Linked DNA regions of Homo sapiens: region 2 is linked to region 1. Evidence: fine-mapped expression QTL. Tissue or cell type: neutrophils. Region 1 holds a variant in brackets; the other region holds the start of a gene. All regions are shown on one strand. Distances are between the middles of the regions.

Evidence for each region. PIP is the estimated chance that this variant, and not a neighbour inherited with it, causes the effect.
Region 2: it holds the start of CLEC1A, and the variant in region 1 is fine-mapped to the expression of CLEC1A in neutrophils (BLUEPRINT, PIP 0.95). The same link has a PIP of 0.9 or more in whole blood.

What each region holds. Positions count from the first base shown.
Region 1 is chr12:10,066,219-10,074,408 of GRCh38, forward strand. It overlaps CLEC1A (C-type lectin domain family 1 member A), which reads right to left. Exons shown (of 6, transcript NM_016511.4): 5 at 7,075-7,193; 6 at 3,336-5,295. The coding sequence ends at 5,115. Among named protein-coding and RNA genes, the nearest start is that of CLEC1A, 29 kb to the right of the region's middle. The variant T/C (reference allele first, on the strand shown) is at 3,969.
Region 2 is chr12:10,094,557-10,102,746 of GRCh38, forward strand. It overlaps CLEC1A (C-type lectin domain family 1 member A), which reads right to left and starts at 4,429. Exons shown (of 6, transcript NM_016511.4): 1 at 4,252-4,429. The coding sequence starts at 4,366.

The sequences.
Region 1 (8,190 bases):
CAGAAGGAATAGTCAGGATGCCAGGATCAGAATGTTCTCCAGAGAATTCTGTGAATTCCCTCTTTCCTCTCAATGACCATGCCTGGCATTCGCAAACCAAAGGGCTCATGGTCTGGTCCCTCAGGGTTAACACGCCAACACTTTTGATTACGTCTTTCAGTGCCTCGATTGCCTCATTGTAAAATAACAGCAGAACTTACTCCAAAATATTGTGTGAGGAGTAGACTGTAAATATATGTCAGTGCTGAGAATAGTCTTGCACAGAGTTGAACACTCTATCAGTGCTTGGTTTTGTTCTCTGGACTACACCACCAATCATCTATACACATCAACCTTTATTTGTGCATCCCAGGCAAAAATGATCCCTTTTTTTGCTCCTCTTGGAGGGATATTCAGAAGTTAAAGTTTATGTGTAAAATGTCAGCAACTCTCTGGAGAGAATATCTGCTTTAAAGTTAATGGATTCTCCTCAAATAAATCTATAGACATTCTCTGCCCTAAGTCTGTAGACTCCCTGAAGCATGGACTATCTTATTCCCTAGAGACCATTAATAGCAAAGAACCCTGTGATCTACAGAAAGAACAGATTCTTTAATTATTATTATATTACTTGTTACCACTTACGTCCCTGCAAGAACGCCGTACCACATAGTAGGTTCTCAATAAATATTTGCTTAATTCAGTATAATTTTATTTAATTCTTCATTTCTCATAAAGAGGAGCTGAGATTCATTAGATTATCATCTTTTCTTCCTAAGCATAAAGGCATCACTTAAATATATAAAGTAAAAAAAAAACCTAATTCTCTGAGTCACTGGAAATCATTTAAATGAAACTAAATATCCTCTTACCTAAATGTCCTTTTACAATGGGTAAGGTTGTGTAAGGATGAGAAGAGCATGTTTTTGTTTATTTACCCTTGACCTAGAGTTTAAATGTGGGAGTTTAAGTAAAAGAGATTTTTCTCTAATTTTCTGCAGAACCTGAAAAAGGAGAATAGCAGAGAAAACACAGCATATATTGTCTCCTGTGTTTGATTTTTACAGCTGACAGCTGGCAGCTGAATGTAATAACCTGGAATAAAGGAGAAACAATAGTGGAATTTACTAGCAAAGACTGTTTGCCTTAAAGATTCTTCAAAGTATTGTCATGGAACTATGTTTAGAGGAAGGATACGAAGCACTTATAATCATTCTTTAAGAAGTACAATAAAGCAAAAGGCAAACATCCTTCAGCTGATGTCATCCCGTAGTGTATGATGCAGTATTTTCAAATTAGAATTTATCTACAGCGCAGCTGACTTCAGCTCCTACAAATCTCCTCAGCAGCGATGCTACTTTCCACACAGATGCTATAGTTGGGTGATTCTTCTCTGCAGGTTGCTTTTGGTCCAGGATACCAAGGCTTTTCAGATACAACACTGAGTATGCCAGTCTTATATCCTAGTCCCACCAACAATGAATTGGGCATCTTAGATCTCTTTCATTGAGTTCTAAGTTAGTCTTAAACAAACGAAAAGAAAACTAAAAATAAAACTATCCTGCAAATGTGAAGAGTTTTTTTACATGTTTGGTTAAAGTACATTAAATGTATAAAAAGTATACATAATAATATTGGTAGAATAATAGTAGATACTATTCGAGCCTAAAAATCTATTCATATAATGAAGCGTGTACAAAAGTCACGCAGACTTTAAATCAGAGGATCCTGATTTGTTTGTAATCTTCAAATACTGTAAGAATCTCTCTACAGAGGAGTTGACTCCCAAATATTAAAGCTGGCCCAGAGACAACCTGCTAACCTACTAGACTTTTCTCCTTGTTCATAATGTGTTTGTATCCTCAAAATAAAAGCTCCCCGTTACTCTTCTCACACTTCCTGCTGTTACAGGGCTCATGACCTGTTTCCTGTTGATAAATCCTGAAAGCTGGTTCAATATCCTCAGGAAAAGAAAGAGCTTATTGTGTACCGGAGATCTCAGCTCTACCAGGAAAGGCTGGGCTCCTCGTTTGACTGTTCCTGCAATTTCTTCAGAATTACATAAACAAGAACCTAGAAAGAAAAAAGTCTCCTCATCCAGAAAAACCAGTTCATACAGTGCCCCTCTCTGATTCTCAACTGGATATTGTTCTTAGCAAATCAGATTTTAAAATTCACTTTATCATTATGTCCTATTCTTAATATCATTTTTCTAAAGTGTGTAGTGAGAATGCTATGCTATACACTTTTTTCTGTTGTTTTGAAATGTTTGTTCACATTGTGATCAATATTGTGAGTTTTGCTATAAAGACAAAGGGATTAAGGGGAAACATGAAGAATAAACTCAGGGAAGGAGCTGAAGTATGTCAAATGTATGCTATTTTTTCCTCCTCACAATCTAAAGTGACACTATCCCTTAGTCCCAGACTTGGAATGACATACCATTCAAAACTCACTCTAGGCAGCTAGACCCTTCACATCAATGGCACTTAAAGAGTGGCTTGTCATCCATCCCTGAGCTAGACTGCAGCCACATAGGATGCTAGGAGTCAAAACTTAAATGAGTGCATGTCTCTGTTTTACAGCTTAGTCCACAAAATCATTTGACTTCCTCCTATCAGTCATATTTTCTTTCTGTAGCAACAAGGCTTACATAACAATTGCTTAACTGCAGGCTTACTTCTCATTTCTTGTTATGTACCTATTATATGAACTACTTTCATCGAAAATCTGCACTCATCATCAAAAATATTTGGTAATAAAATCCTTAGCTCCCCAAAGTAGGTGCCCTTCTACAATTTGTTCATAAATACAGATTTCCAAAGAAGTTTGTTGTTATTAATAAATCAAGTTTAGCCTAACGCTGCCTTTTTACGTATTTTAAGTTTAGCTTAAAGGATTCTCTGTACATAATGTCAACTATAACAAGTTGAGGGGTAAACAGACCCTAGTCTATACTTGTGCCAATCACTGTGCTTTGGCCAATCAAATGTAGCCAACTGTTTGAATTGTGTTCAAATAAGGCAAACTCCGAGCTGTAAGCAATCCAGCTTTTTCTGTACCTCACTTCCGTTTTCTTTACTACGTTTTCCTTTTTCTGTCCATAAATCTTCTTCCACCACATGGCTGCACTGGAGCCTCTGAGTCTACTCTGGCTCTGGAGGCTGCCTGATTTGTGAATGAGTCATTGCTCAATTAAACTCTTTTAAATTTAATTGAGCTGAAGTTTTTTTCTTTTTAACATTGCTTATGCATGTGTATGTGCGCCCCTATATTTAAAAATAAATCACTAGATCCTTTTAAAAATATTTTCTTGACTTCCCTTACATTTTTTATTGCAGTTCACATTATGAAACTGATTTCACATTTACTTTATTTCAGCTAACAGTAACATTATGAGGAAATTATAATTATTTCTACTTCATATGCAGTGAAATAGGTTTCATGAAGTAAAGTGACTTGCCTAATAAGTAAATCAGAATAAGAGGTCTAAAATCTTCATTTTCTAACCACAAATACAGTTTTCTTTGCATGACACAATATATCAACAGAACTTGCTCGACCCTGAAGAAAATTTTAAGGAAATCAACAGAAAATTGAAAGGAAAGTTCTCAAGGAAGAATCCGCAATAGTCTTTGCTAAGTGACAATCTAACAAAATGAAGTTTATGAAAATGAGCACCAATGTGTTCTTTCTATCATATGATTGCTACTATACGTCATTTTACCATGAGATAGATGTTTATGAAAAACAAAACTGAAGCACCTCAGTTTCCACTGTTGAAAAACAAAGATTTATAATGTTATCTTTTCTAGCATAAAACCCTCAAAATTGATTTATCAGTAAACCAATAAACTTGGTGGCTGTGATGGTGTCATTCCCAATGATCCCTGTTATATTTGTGCATGGAGTCGTCTCAAGAAAGAAGTGCCTCACAAAGGAGCAGCTACAAAGATGTCACTGTCTCTGTTCATTTCCCATGACCTGAC[T/C]GGAAATCATGTGCACTAATGCAACTCAGCTTCCTCATCAACCATGTGTTGATGCCATAAGCTCACCTCAAAAGATTTCATTTTAGGAAAACGTTAAAACTGTTTTCTTGAAGCCAACACGTATTTCAAAGACATCTTATTTTCTCCAGATAATCATGTAATCAGTACTCTTGTAAATTCCCCAAAAACTTTCAGTAAGGCACAATCAAAATAATGACCGCTATCATATTTTGAAAAGCATTTCCATGCTGAATTTTCCCACCAACCATAAGTCCATTGTAAAATCACACACACTTCACAGTATTTACATTTATTATTATTAAATCTTCAGTACCTGAAAGGTATAAATATGGGTCAATGGAAGAAAATAGGAACTGAAACTATTACAGGTGCAGATGAAGAGGCTCACTTTTTTCTGGTCTTTAATCTCTCTGAAGGGAATATCGGGGACGGTAGTTCTGATATGAAACGGAGATGGGGATATATTTCTTTCCTGGGAGAAATTCCTATGGAGGGGAGACAATTATCAGAGTCTTAATGGACACAGGAAGGAATGCTTATAAGGCATTGAGATTTGAGATTCTCATATCAAGTGACATCCCTGTTGGGAAACGGCATGGACAAGGCAGATGGGGTCTTTACTGATGGATTGGGAAGGGACTAGTATGAACTGAAACAAACAAAAAGAATTCCTTGTGTATTTGCTGGTACAATCTGGGAAGTGACTGCCAATTTCTGATGGACTACTTGACTGTCAGAGAAAAGGATGTTACCTCAATGTATTTCCTCTACTTCAAAAAGTTTCTTATTCCACCAAGTGTAAGGAAGACATGAAAACAGGGAGGTGATATTAGACATTGAGAAGAAAGAGAGCTAAAAGTTATCTCTAAGCCAAGAAGGCAGATGACATTATGGGTTTCTGAGGTTGGTTGGTGGCATGTAAATAAGACTTCTTGTGACTGTTAAATACGTGCATAAACCCAAGCTCAGAAATGCTGGTGATCCTGAACAGGAAACACGAGAACCCATTTTGTACTAGTCAGAGAGATAGTCTTTCCTGATTATGTTCCATTTCCCAATGTCTCAACTAGCCCTTGCTTTGGCACCGCCTGGCTCACTCTGCTATTTGTAGTTGCAGAGGGCGAATCAGTCACCTTCGCCTAATGTTTCAGGGGGGACATGGAGGCTCTCTGGCTTCACCATTCCTGCCCTTCTCTCACAGACACAACGCTTCAATTCTTTGCAGTCCTTTGAGAAGATCATCCCATTAAGGATGGCCACACAGTCTCTGCTTCTTGGGCTGGTGACATCTATTATAATATGGAACCTTAAGAAAGGAAGAAAAAGTAAATTCAATCACGGTTTATTTCTAAAATAAAATATTAAATACCCATTCTTTCTAGAGTTATAAAATTATAGTCTAGATACCAGAATAAGTTTACCGGGAAACTGGGGTCATGTGCCTCTTTCTCTTCAGCCCCTAAGTTTCCATACTCATTCTTAGAAACAGCAGGTCACCCCAAACAGCAAAAACCATTTCTAACTAAAGCGAAGCTACGTGTTCTCCTCCAAATTTATATAGTGTTTCTGCCACTTAAAAAGTTCTCTACCTTCTCTGTAACTCAGTTTACTTAACTGTAAAATACAAATGATTACATCAAATATATCCTGTCTCCTGGGAGAATAATGATATATTGTATATAGGGAAGAATGGTGTCTGTTCAAATATGGCTTTAAATGTGATATATTTTGATAGAGAAATTACAATTTCCTCTTTCAAAGGATACTGATGTGGTTTGGATGTGTGTTCTTTCCAAATCTTAGTTGAAATGTTATCCCCAGTGTTGGAGATGGGGCCTGGTGGGAGGTGTTCGGGTCATCGGGGTGGATCCCTCATGAATGGCTTGGTGCCCTCTTCTTGGTGATGAGTGAGTTCTCACTCAGTTAGTTGATGCAAGATCTGGTGGCTTAAAAGGGCCTGGAACCTCCCCCCAGCCCCTTCTCTTTTGTGTTCTCTCTTGCCATTGGACATGCCAGCTCTTGCTTCGCCTTCTGCCATGAGTAAAGCTCCCTGAAGCCTCCTCAGAAGCCAAGCAGATGCTTGTACAGCCTGCAGGATTGTGAGCCAATTAAACCTCCTTTCTTTATAAGCTATCCAACCTCAGGCATTCATTTATGCTGATGCAAAAATGGACTAACACAGATACCATATGTACTCCTGTCTAAATGCTCACAGCATATGTACGACTAGTGTTTTATATTACCCCTTACATTTTCAGCAAATCTTTTCTCAGAGATTGTGTTTTTTAAAAGATGTGCTCCCTATTTTGCTGCACAGAAAGCCAAGAACTCTTATGCTATCTCTGGGTACTGACAAGTTGTGTGACTTTAGGCAACCACCATTACAGCCTGGACTCCTGGGCTTCAATTTACTCACTCAGGGAAAGATCTCTCTCTCTCTCTCTCTCTCTCTCTGTCTCTCCCTTCTCTCATCTGCAGTATGTCCCAGACACAAACTTCTGAAAGCAGCAAGAGAACTACCCTGATATTTTACTAATGCTATGTATCTGTCTCCCTCACTGGCTTATAAGCAGTTCAAAAGCAGGCACTGGCCGGGTGCGGTGGCTCATGCTTGTAATCTCAGCACTTTGGGAGGCCAAGATGGGCAAATCACTTGAGTCCAGGAGTTCTAAACAAGACTGGGCAACACATCATAATCCTGTCTTTCCAAAAAAGACAAAAAATTAGCTGCATGTAGTGGTGCACGCCTGTAGTCCGAGCTACTCAGAAGGCTGAGGTGAGAGGAGAGCTTGAGCCTGGGAGGCAGAGGTTTCAGTGAGCAGAGCTTGCACCACTGCACTCCAGCCCATGCAACAGAACAAGACCCTATCTCAAAAAACAATCAAACGAACAAACACACACACACACACAAACAAAATGAGGATGCACTATTGTTCAAATATCTTCAGGCATCCTCCTGCAAACACAGTATCCAGTACAAAGCAGAAGTTTGATTAATACTTGATGGACCAAATTCTTGAGCTCTATCACTCAAGCAAAATATCTTTGTTAAATGCCTTTCCCATAAAATATCCTGAAGGCTTACAGTTCAGAAGTGAAAGGGGTTCCATCCATCCACAGCCAGGCCTTGCCACTGTCAGGGCGCAAAAGCCCTGTCCAATAAGAGTAGAAAAACTCAGAGTAGCTCTGAGACGCGGCAAATTCCTGTGAAAAGCACATAAGAAAAGCTTTAGCTTTGGTGGCATGATTACTCACATGTACAGACATGCATGGGCCAGCCAGCACTTTTCTCAAAGCACACACAAGTCCTGCTTCACATTGATGCTCATATGCTTAAGAGAAAAAGCATCTATGCTGAGGCCAGTCAGAAATTTGTCCAGGTTTAATAACTTATTTTGTCTTAGTAAATATGGAACACATGTCGATATTCTGAAAGCGGAAATCACATCAACCAAGATTTGTTCCTGACCCATGGCTTTTAAGGCACAGAATTAAACATTAATGTTGACATAAAAATATGAGGGAAAGACTAACAAAGAGATGCAGAATGATTCTGGGACATGGAAGAATATGGAGGGAAAAGTGCAGGAATGAGGTAGTAACCGTTATAAATACCTGGGAAAGGAAGAAAAAAAGTAAAAGAAAAATTTGCAAGGATGATTTATGTCTTAGACTAGGAAGAGAAGAAAGAAATTTTTAAATTTCTATCTATAAATATTTATGTGCACACATGTGTATAGTCCTATACATGGTAATCCTTTTCCCAATATCCATATTTAACATATGTTTACATTTTAAAAGTTGTTTACTTACTTCTATCTAGTCTCACTCTGCACTCCTAATAGATATTTTTGGAGGATTGGTGGCGACAGGGTCTCACTCTGTTGCCCAGGCTGGAGTGCAGTGGCACGATCATAGCTCACTGCAGCCTCAACCTCCCCAGGCTCAGTGCACTCCTAATATTTTAACATAGAAATTATCTAAATATTTATTATAATTATCCATTTAAATAATGAGTTTCTCAAGGCCGTACACTTTGTTTCATTGTTACATCCAAAACCCCTCAGATAATTAATAAAATATACTGATTTAATGAGAGATTATTGAAAATGTAAATGAAGCTATTACCAAGCAATAGTCGTAGAGTGAACAGGTGAAAATAACTGTAGTTGAAAATATTTATTCCAATTAAATGGGCGGG
Region 2 (8,190 bases), 28 kb after region 1:
CCAAGGAGTCACTTAAGTTGCCTAAGTCACTAAGTTGCACAGAGCTACCCAAGCTGACTGATTCCAGAGCTGGACATTTTCAATCATCTTCCTATCCTCCCAACACATCTCAGATCAATATTTATACATGGCAGTGCATCTGGAATCATAGAATGACAGCAGCTTGCAACTTTTCCCTTCTACATTATGAAATGTCCACTCTGCCAGCAAGATGAATTCTGAAAGCATAAATTTAATCATACTTCCTCTCTTCCATAGGAAGAAGTTTCCCAAGGCTCTTTCTGTTTTAGTCAGTTTCTTAGTGTACTGTATCAGGCTCCTCCTAATAGGATCCCATTTTACTTCTTAGCCTCATGGGTCCAGATCATGTCACTTCCTCTGGGAACTCGCAAAACTAAACTCAATCAGTAACTCATTCATTCCTATATTGCTTCTGCGGCCTCCAACATTGATTTAATAGCACTAAATGACATTTACTACAACTATTGATTTAGAGTATTCCTTCCACTTCTCTAAGCACCTGAAAAAGAGGCTCCTCTAGTACATCCCATAATGTCTTGTCATTAGTAGGTTTGATTTAAAGAGTTGTTGAATCAGTTAACAGCGATTTATGTCATGACTGTGATGAGGGATTTATGCTGTAATTGAGGAAATAAAACTAAAACGCTGGGAAATTCAATAGTACTGTAATTAATGTGAACAAGGGAAAAGAGGAACTTGAATTTATTATTAAATTTTTTAAAATTATTTAACCAAAGTAATTTTTCATATTCTTTTGATAGGATAAAATTTAGTCTCTGGCAGGAATCTCAGCCTGTCAGTTATTTCATCCTCTCTCCTCTTACTGTACTGTTAATGTGAAGTTCTCTCCCTGAACTTATTTTCAATCTACAATTGAGTTAGAATTTCCCACATCTTAAAAAATCATTCTTAAAATCTGTCACCCAATGCTGTAATACCTCAGCAATAACCCATTTTATCTTCAAAAAAAAAGAGAGAAAGAAAAAGAGAAAATGACTTAAATTGTTTATTTTATTATGTAACCATCAGTTCCTTTTCAAACCACTGCTGTCAAAACTAAATATTTTCCTCCTTATTGATAAATTGTTAAATAATCATTTTAGTCTTCCTTTCGCTTAAACTCTCTGCAGTATTTGTTATTTGTTGTTTTTAAAACTCACAGTCATTATCATTGACTTTTCTAAAACTCTTGAATTTATTGTCCTTCCATTACTCTAATTTTCCATTACTCTTGAATTTATTGTCTCTTGATGCCCTTGTTGTCTCTCTCCAAGACTCCTGCTTCTACCACTCTCTGCTATTCATCCCTGGTAGCTCCTTTTGGAATCTTTCATTCTTCTTGCTCCTCAGGTGTTGATATTCCCTCAGATTATCTCCTTGACACTCTCTTCTGTTCATTCATGTTTTCATTTTACATTCCTTCCCTCAGTGATCTCACTCACTCTCATACATTTTAGTTACTAGCCATTTATTTGACTTAATGACTTAGGTACCTCATTTACTTTATTTATTTAATTACTATGCCAGTAATTCCCACATGTCTATGTAGCCCAACCCACATCCTGCATATACGGGTGTCTTTGGACAGCTCCAAATGCATGTCCCTCCTTCTGCAGACCCCTTAAACTCAAACTCAATTCATCATCTTTCCTGTCCCTTCTATAGTTTCTGTCTCAGTTAACATCAGCACCATCTACATTACATCAAACAGAACCTAGTCAACCTACCACCGAAGTCCCTTTCCTTGTCTCCTCACATGTAACCAATCACCGATTATCTAAACTCCAACACCTCGACATCTTTCATATCTGATTCTTTTTCCTTATTTTTACTATACTGCCTCAGTTCAGGTTTTTCTACCCTTGTACTGGACTAGTGGAAAAATTTGGTATCAGCACATGCAGTTTCATATACCTTCAACTTATCATTTCCATTGCAGCCAGGAAGGTCTTTCCAAAATGCAAAATTTTGTTTCTCCCTATCTAAATCCTGCATTGACTTCATTTTAACTATTGAATAGAATTAAACTAGATCAGCATGCCCTAAAATCCCTCCTTAACTTGCCAGACTTACCCCTTTGCTAAGTTTCCCTCCTCCAACTCTACACCTACGCCATACATATTGCTTATAGTTCTCTAAAAATACAAAGCTACTGAAAACCTTCATGACTTTCCCTTCATACGTCTCTCTGTCTATAGTGTCCCCAGCCTCTCAAACACCCTCACTCCCGATTCCTTATTATGTGGAAGATGTTAAAATTAACTCAACTCCACAGTTGCTCCTTCTGTTAAGCCTTTCCTGAACTCCTCTACTTAATTAGGTAAAAATTAAGCCGAGAGCTTGGTTAAGCTCTCGGCTGTACTGTACATGCTTCTGCCATAACACCTTATTATACTTACTCCTTAGTTGAGAATTGTATTAGACTTTCAATTTCCTTATGAACAGGGACCATATCACATTGGACATTATATCCTCAGTACTAGGATAACATGACCCCAAACATAAGTTTGTGAAAAATGTATGAGGTTGTTGTTTTTCATTTTCACTATCTTAATTGTTTGGCATTTTTACTATCTTAATTGTTTGGCATTTTTAAACACAAACATAGTTGTTACGTCAATTGTTATTGACAAAAGTCTAGAAATTAAATGAATGTGTGTGTGATTTATTTTTATTAATTCTAAAAAATAAAAGTTGCCAGCTCTTAATGGTATCACATCATTATGTTGAATCTGAATCCTCCACATTGCCGAAAATTTCTGAGTGATTTCTGCTGTTATTTTTATCAGCGAAGGTATATCAGATATGTTTATCTAAGAAATAATTATACTTCTATGATGGTATTCCCCTAAATGTTTGTATTACCATAAAAAGATGAAAACAAGATCTCATATATGTTGCCTAAGATAACTATTTCCAGATGATTTCTTCCAAGACAATTCTTTGTAATCTCCACTTCTACTGTTTCAATATCCATTTCTTACAAAGAAGCTCCCAGATGTTGCAGCTAGTGTTTTATCTTGCTCCACCTCCCTCTCCACCCTTCAACCTCAGCAGAACTTATTTGTACATGCTGTTCTTAATTATGCTGATCTCTAGTCCTTGACAGAGTTCCTGGCTCCAGTCAAAGGTGGAAAATGAAGTTATATACAAGCTACTCAAAACCACAGCCGTAAAAATGGACTCTTCGTAAGTTTTTTTGGAGGAAAACGCTTTGTATCCTATTACACATATCCTGTGGCTACAAAAGCTGACATCCCTACTTTTGTCACTTAGCTTCATTTCAAAGAGGTTGGAAATCCCCAATGTCCCTTAACAGCTTACTGGGTAGTTTAGTTAAAAAAAAAAAAAGCCATATTAGTAGGTTTCAGGTGGAGGGTCATTTAATAAATAGAAATAAATAGAAAGTGAATGGAGGGTTTAGTAGGAGAAAGGAAGGAAAACTAAAAGTTATTTGATAAAGAAATAAGGAACAGGATAGTTTTTTTTTTTTAAAGGTATATCCAGATTTACAAAGGTGAAGAAAACAATGATATAATCAGAAGGGAAAGGGCATATTAAAACACAGGCACTGAATGAATGTTAAAATGTGGGATTCCTTTCAACATTCCATTTCTTAAGAACCTAAAGTGTTCCTTTCAGCAATTTTGTGTCAGTCTATATCAGATCAGACAGACATTCAAATATTTTACATAATTTATCATTCTCAGTACTCACAACCACCTTGTAAAGGAAGTTTTATTACTTCTATTTAATATTAAGTCAAGTTAATATGAATTAATATACTTAAAGTATTTAAAACACTGCCAGCACATAATGAGCCCTTTATACATGTTTGTGGCCGTTAATATTTTATAAATAAAGAATATGATGCTACCAGGATACTTAAACAACTCATCCAAAGTTACACAGAAGGAAAGTGGCATACCTGGTTTAGGACCTAGAACCTAGTCCTGTGTATATTACCATGTGAGTCCTTTTCACTAGAACTGAAGTCATATTTTAGCTTTAGATTGGCTGAGTGGCCCAGGAAATAAAATCCTTCTCTAAGTGTGGGAATTATGGAACTGAATATAACTGAAAAAAAAAAATCACTACTATGTCACAGGGCGAGTAATTGGAAATAAAATTATAAGATGCAAGCTAAATATCTCCATTTCTAGGAGGGATAGATCATCTCACACATTTCACAAGGACTGTGGTCTATTTGGACTCCAGGAGACAGGGTACCTGTGCGCCGGGGCTCTGGATGCCGAGTTGTGGCAGAGCCTTGAGAATGCAGGCTCATGGTGGTGTCCCCATCATCATCCAGCATGTCCCTCGTGCTGCTGTACTTGGCCTGCATCTGGATTCCTACAGCGGTGAGAGTGAAATGTGGTCGGATTGCCCTGGGCCGCCGGGCTACTGTGAGCTAGTTCAGGAAGCAAGGCACTAAAAGGCATTCCTAATGTTCTTTCCCAGCGAGGGGCAGGGAAAGTCTCTGACTGCAATTCCTGACTGGACAGGCCCAGCCCCTCTCCTGTGAGCTTGTACTCTGAATGCCAAATCAGTCAGGCTGAGGGGAAATAGCATGTGTTTTCTGTTTAGGCCGTCTCAGTCTAAACAGTTGTCAAAAAGTTGGCCTTTCTCAGGTCTTTTTTGTTTACCTGTTTGCATTTCTCATGTAACTTCACTGTAAAGAAGGCAAGAACTTACAATAGCACGGTGTAGCACTGTGGTTCCTTCAGAGTCTGCAGAATAATAATAACTTGGAAGGACACACATCCCTGTTTCTTACCCATCCTTTAGGGAGTCACTTAGTTTAACCTCTCTGTGTCTTTGTGAAAAGAGAAGAGATTATAGGACCTAGCCCCTTCCTTTCTCCAAGAACAGAGTAGTGGTCTTTCTTATAGTATCTGAACTTGATTCAACATTTTATAGCACATTTGGTACATTATGATCACGAGGAATTATACAATTTACTGGAAGTAAAAACTTTTAAAACTATTACTAACCACCATGTGGTTTGGGGAAGCCAGTTCATTTGTGCCTAAATCTCCTAAACTGAGAAGAAAATGTTTTAGGTAATGTGAAAAAATTCTTCCTGAATCAGTACATTAGAATTATATTCCCATCTTAGTCTGTTTGTGCTGACCTACAACAGGATACCTGAGACCAGATAAATTATAAGCAATAGAAATGTATTTCTCAGCATTCCAGAAGGTGGGAAATCTAAGATCAAGGCACTGGCAGGTTTGGATGTCAGGTGAGAGCTGCACTCTCTGTAGAGGAGGAAGGGTATTCTCACGTGGCAGAAAGCAGAAGGTCAAGCCAGCCAAATGCTACATGTAGCGTCTTTTATAAAGGCCTTAATACCATCCTCAAGAGAGAAGACTTCAAGGACTAATCATCTCTTAAAGGCCCCACCTCTCTCAATACTACCACACTGGCAACACCTGAATTCTGCAGGAAACACATTCAAACCATAACAAGACAGGTATCAGTAACAACCTTGTGCCTTTGGGAGGACAATTAACAATTTGCATCTACATTTCCTAAACTGAAAGACAAGAAGATTGTTTTAGATAATGTCTAAAAGTTCTTCCTGAATCTGTACAATAGACTTATATTACTCTACCAAAACTTTTCCAGATGTTAGGTGATAGGTGGGCAAAATCAAGCATGCTAAATATAAAGGAGTGTCAGAATGCTCCAGTTGGGGTAGCCAGACCATATAAAAGATCTATGAGGAAGTGCACATTGTGGATTCACATGTGTTTCAAGCTGTTTGTTGTTCATCAAATTATTCTAAATTTTTTAAAAATTGGAATTTTTTTTTTTTTAGATGGCAGATTGGAGGCAGTGTTAGCATGACTCTACCACTTGGAAGGACAAAATAGTGAGTAAAAAATTCTCACTGTGGGCCAGCCATGGTGGTCACGCCTTTAATCCCAGCACTTTGGGAGGCTGAGGTGGGTGGATCACCTGAGGTCAGGAGTTCGAGACCAGCCTGACCAACATGGCAAAACCCCGTTTCTACTGAAAATATGAAAATTAGCCGGGCGTGGTGGCGGGTGCCTATAATACCAGCTACTGGGGAGGCTGAGGTAGGAGAATCACTTGAATCCGGGAGGCGGAGGTTGCAGTGAGCCAAGATCACACCACTGCACTCCAGCCTGGGCAACAGAGCGAGACTCCATCTGAAAAAAAAAAAAAAAAAAAAAAACCTTCTCACTGTGAACTCTTTTCCCAAGAAGCAACACAGGAACTGAACAGGAAAACTGAAAGAATCCACAGACTCTTTGAAAGAAGCAGCAGGTTATACCTACACCATGAGCTAGGTGAAAAACTGTAAGCTCCCAGGGTGTGTGAGGTGAAGAGACTGGCTCCAGGATACATACCCCCACAGGGGAACCTGAAAGTCCATGCCATGGGGGAAGGCCTTAACCCGTCCCAGCACTGGAACCAATTAAAAGAGCAGTGATGAATATAAAAGTAAGAGCAGCAGCAGGAAGAGGCTTGTGTGCATTCCCAGTCTCCAGCATGAGCCAAGGGAAACTATTCCTTATGCCTCACAGACAACCTCACGGAACTCAGCCAACTAGCTCAGCCAGGGGTTGCACATTGTAAAAACTCCCAACTGAAATTCACAATATAACCTCAAGTGAAATGAACTCCCTTGGCCAGAACCAGAAAGGTGAGTGGGAAATGTGTTGCAGCCGTGAGTGCAGGATCTGGGTGCCAGCTGTGTGGGTGGACAGAGAGGGGCATGGCCTGAACGCCAGCAGTTGCTATCACCACGGGAAAAGTTTATGGCCTCAGGCAGTTGTGAGCTCTGAGTGCAGACTGCCTGGAACTTAGCTCACTGCTGCTAGCAGAGTACTGCAGGAGCCAGATCTGCCTTGCCAACTGTGTGACATCTGGGTTAGGCTTACTGCTGCCTACTACTCCCCACTCCCTGTGCAACCACATCTCCAAAAGGGGCCGCTGCTTGCCATGCACATGGTGACTCAGAGTGCAGACCCACCTAACACAGCCCTCATCTGGCTTTGCCCCTCCACCCACCGTGGTAGCTTAATACAAAGGACAGAAACCCTGGGGAGATTTATAGCCCCATCCATCACCTGAGAAGCCAGACTACCTACCCTGGGCAACATAAGGCAAGCACAAATCCCACTGCTACTACCACACCTGATACTCTTTTGCAAATGCCACCCAGTAGCTGGAAGCCTACCAACACAGTCCATTGCAGCATCTGTAGGTGGAATAACACTGCACTCAAGAAGGACAAAACTACTGTGTGACCTCAGCTATTACCACTTCCTGCACTACCCTGTCTAACCAGGAGGTCCTGAGTCTATCCACATGACCAGTTTATTACTACCTGAACTAGCATTCAAGAAAGACAACACACTAAAGTTATCTATAATCAAGGAATCTCACAGGTCTATGTCACGCCTCTGGCACCCCCATCAGACCTGGTGCTGATAACAGCTGCTGGAAAACTGGAGGACAGGTCATATCACTGGATCCTTAGCAGACATCCCCCAGCACTAGTCTGGAGCCACTGAGTGGCTAGACCCTGAGGAGCAGCAGCACTCATAGTAGTCTGTCTCTCAGGAACTTCTACTCCTAAGGAAAGGGAGAGTGTGCCACATCAAGGGAACACCCTGTGTGAATAAAGAATCCAGATGGCAGGTCTTAAGGATTAGATTGTTCCACTGGTGGGAAGTTTCTTTCAATAGAGGCAGAATTGAAGTGCTGGGCTCAGCAGGGAATGTCTACAGCTGTCCCAACAGTCAGACAGCCCTGGTGCTTATCAAGGATCTTGGAGAAGGGGACTTCTTACCAACCTCGTCCACCACTGCAGACACAGCTGGGTCTTCTCCCACAAGAGCTCAGCATGGGTGCACCCATAGACAGACTTTGTAGAACACTTCAGGGTGACCGCAACCCCACAGGGGAAGCAACCCTCCAGTTTCAGGCTTACATAAGAGGCAGAGTCACAGTTCTCTACTTGGAGCACTAACATTCCAGCAGATGAAAAGAGAGGCCTGTCTGATCTGAATAGCCAGAATATTGGGACAGATGTGAGTCTGGGAGATGGATAGCTTCCCAGCTGACCTGACAGGGGAGCTAAGGTGGCTACCACCCTTCCCCTGATAAGACTTCAGTGTGTCTCCCTGACAG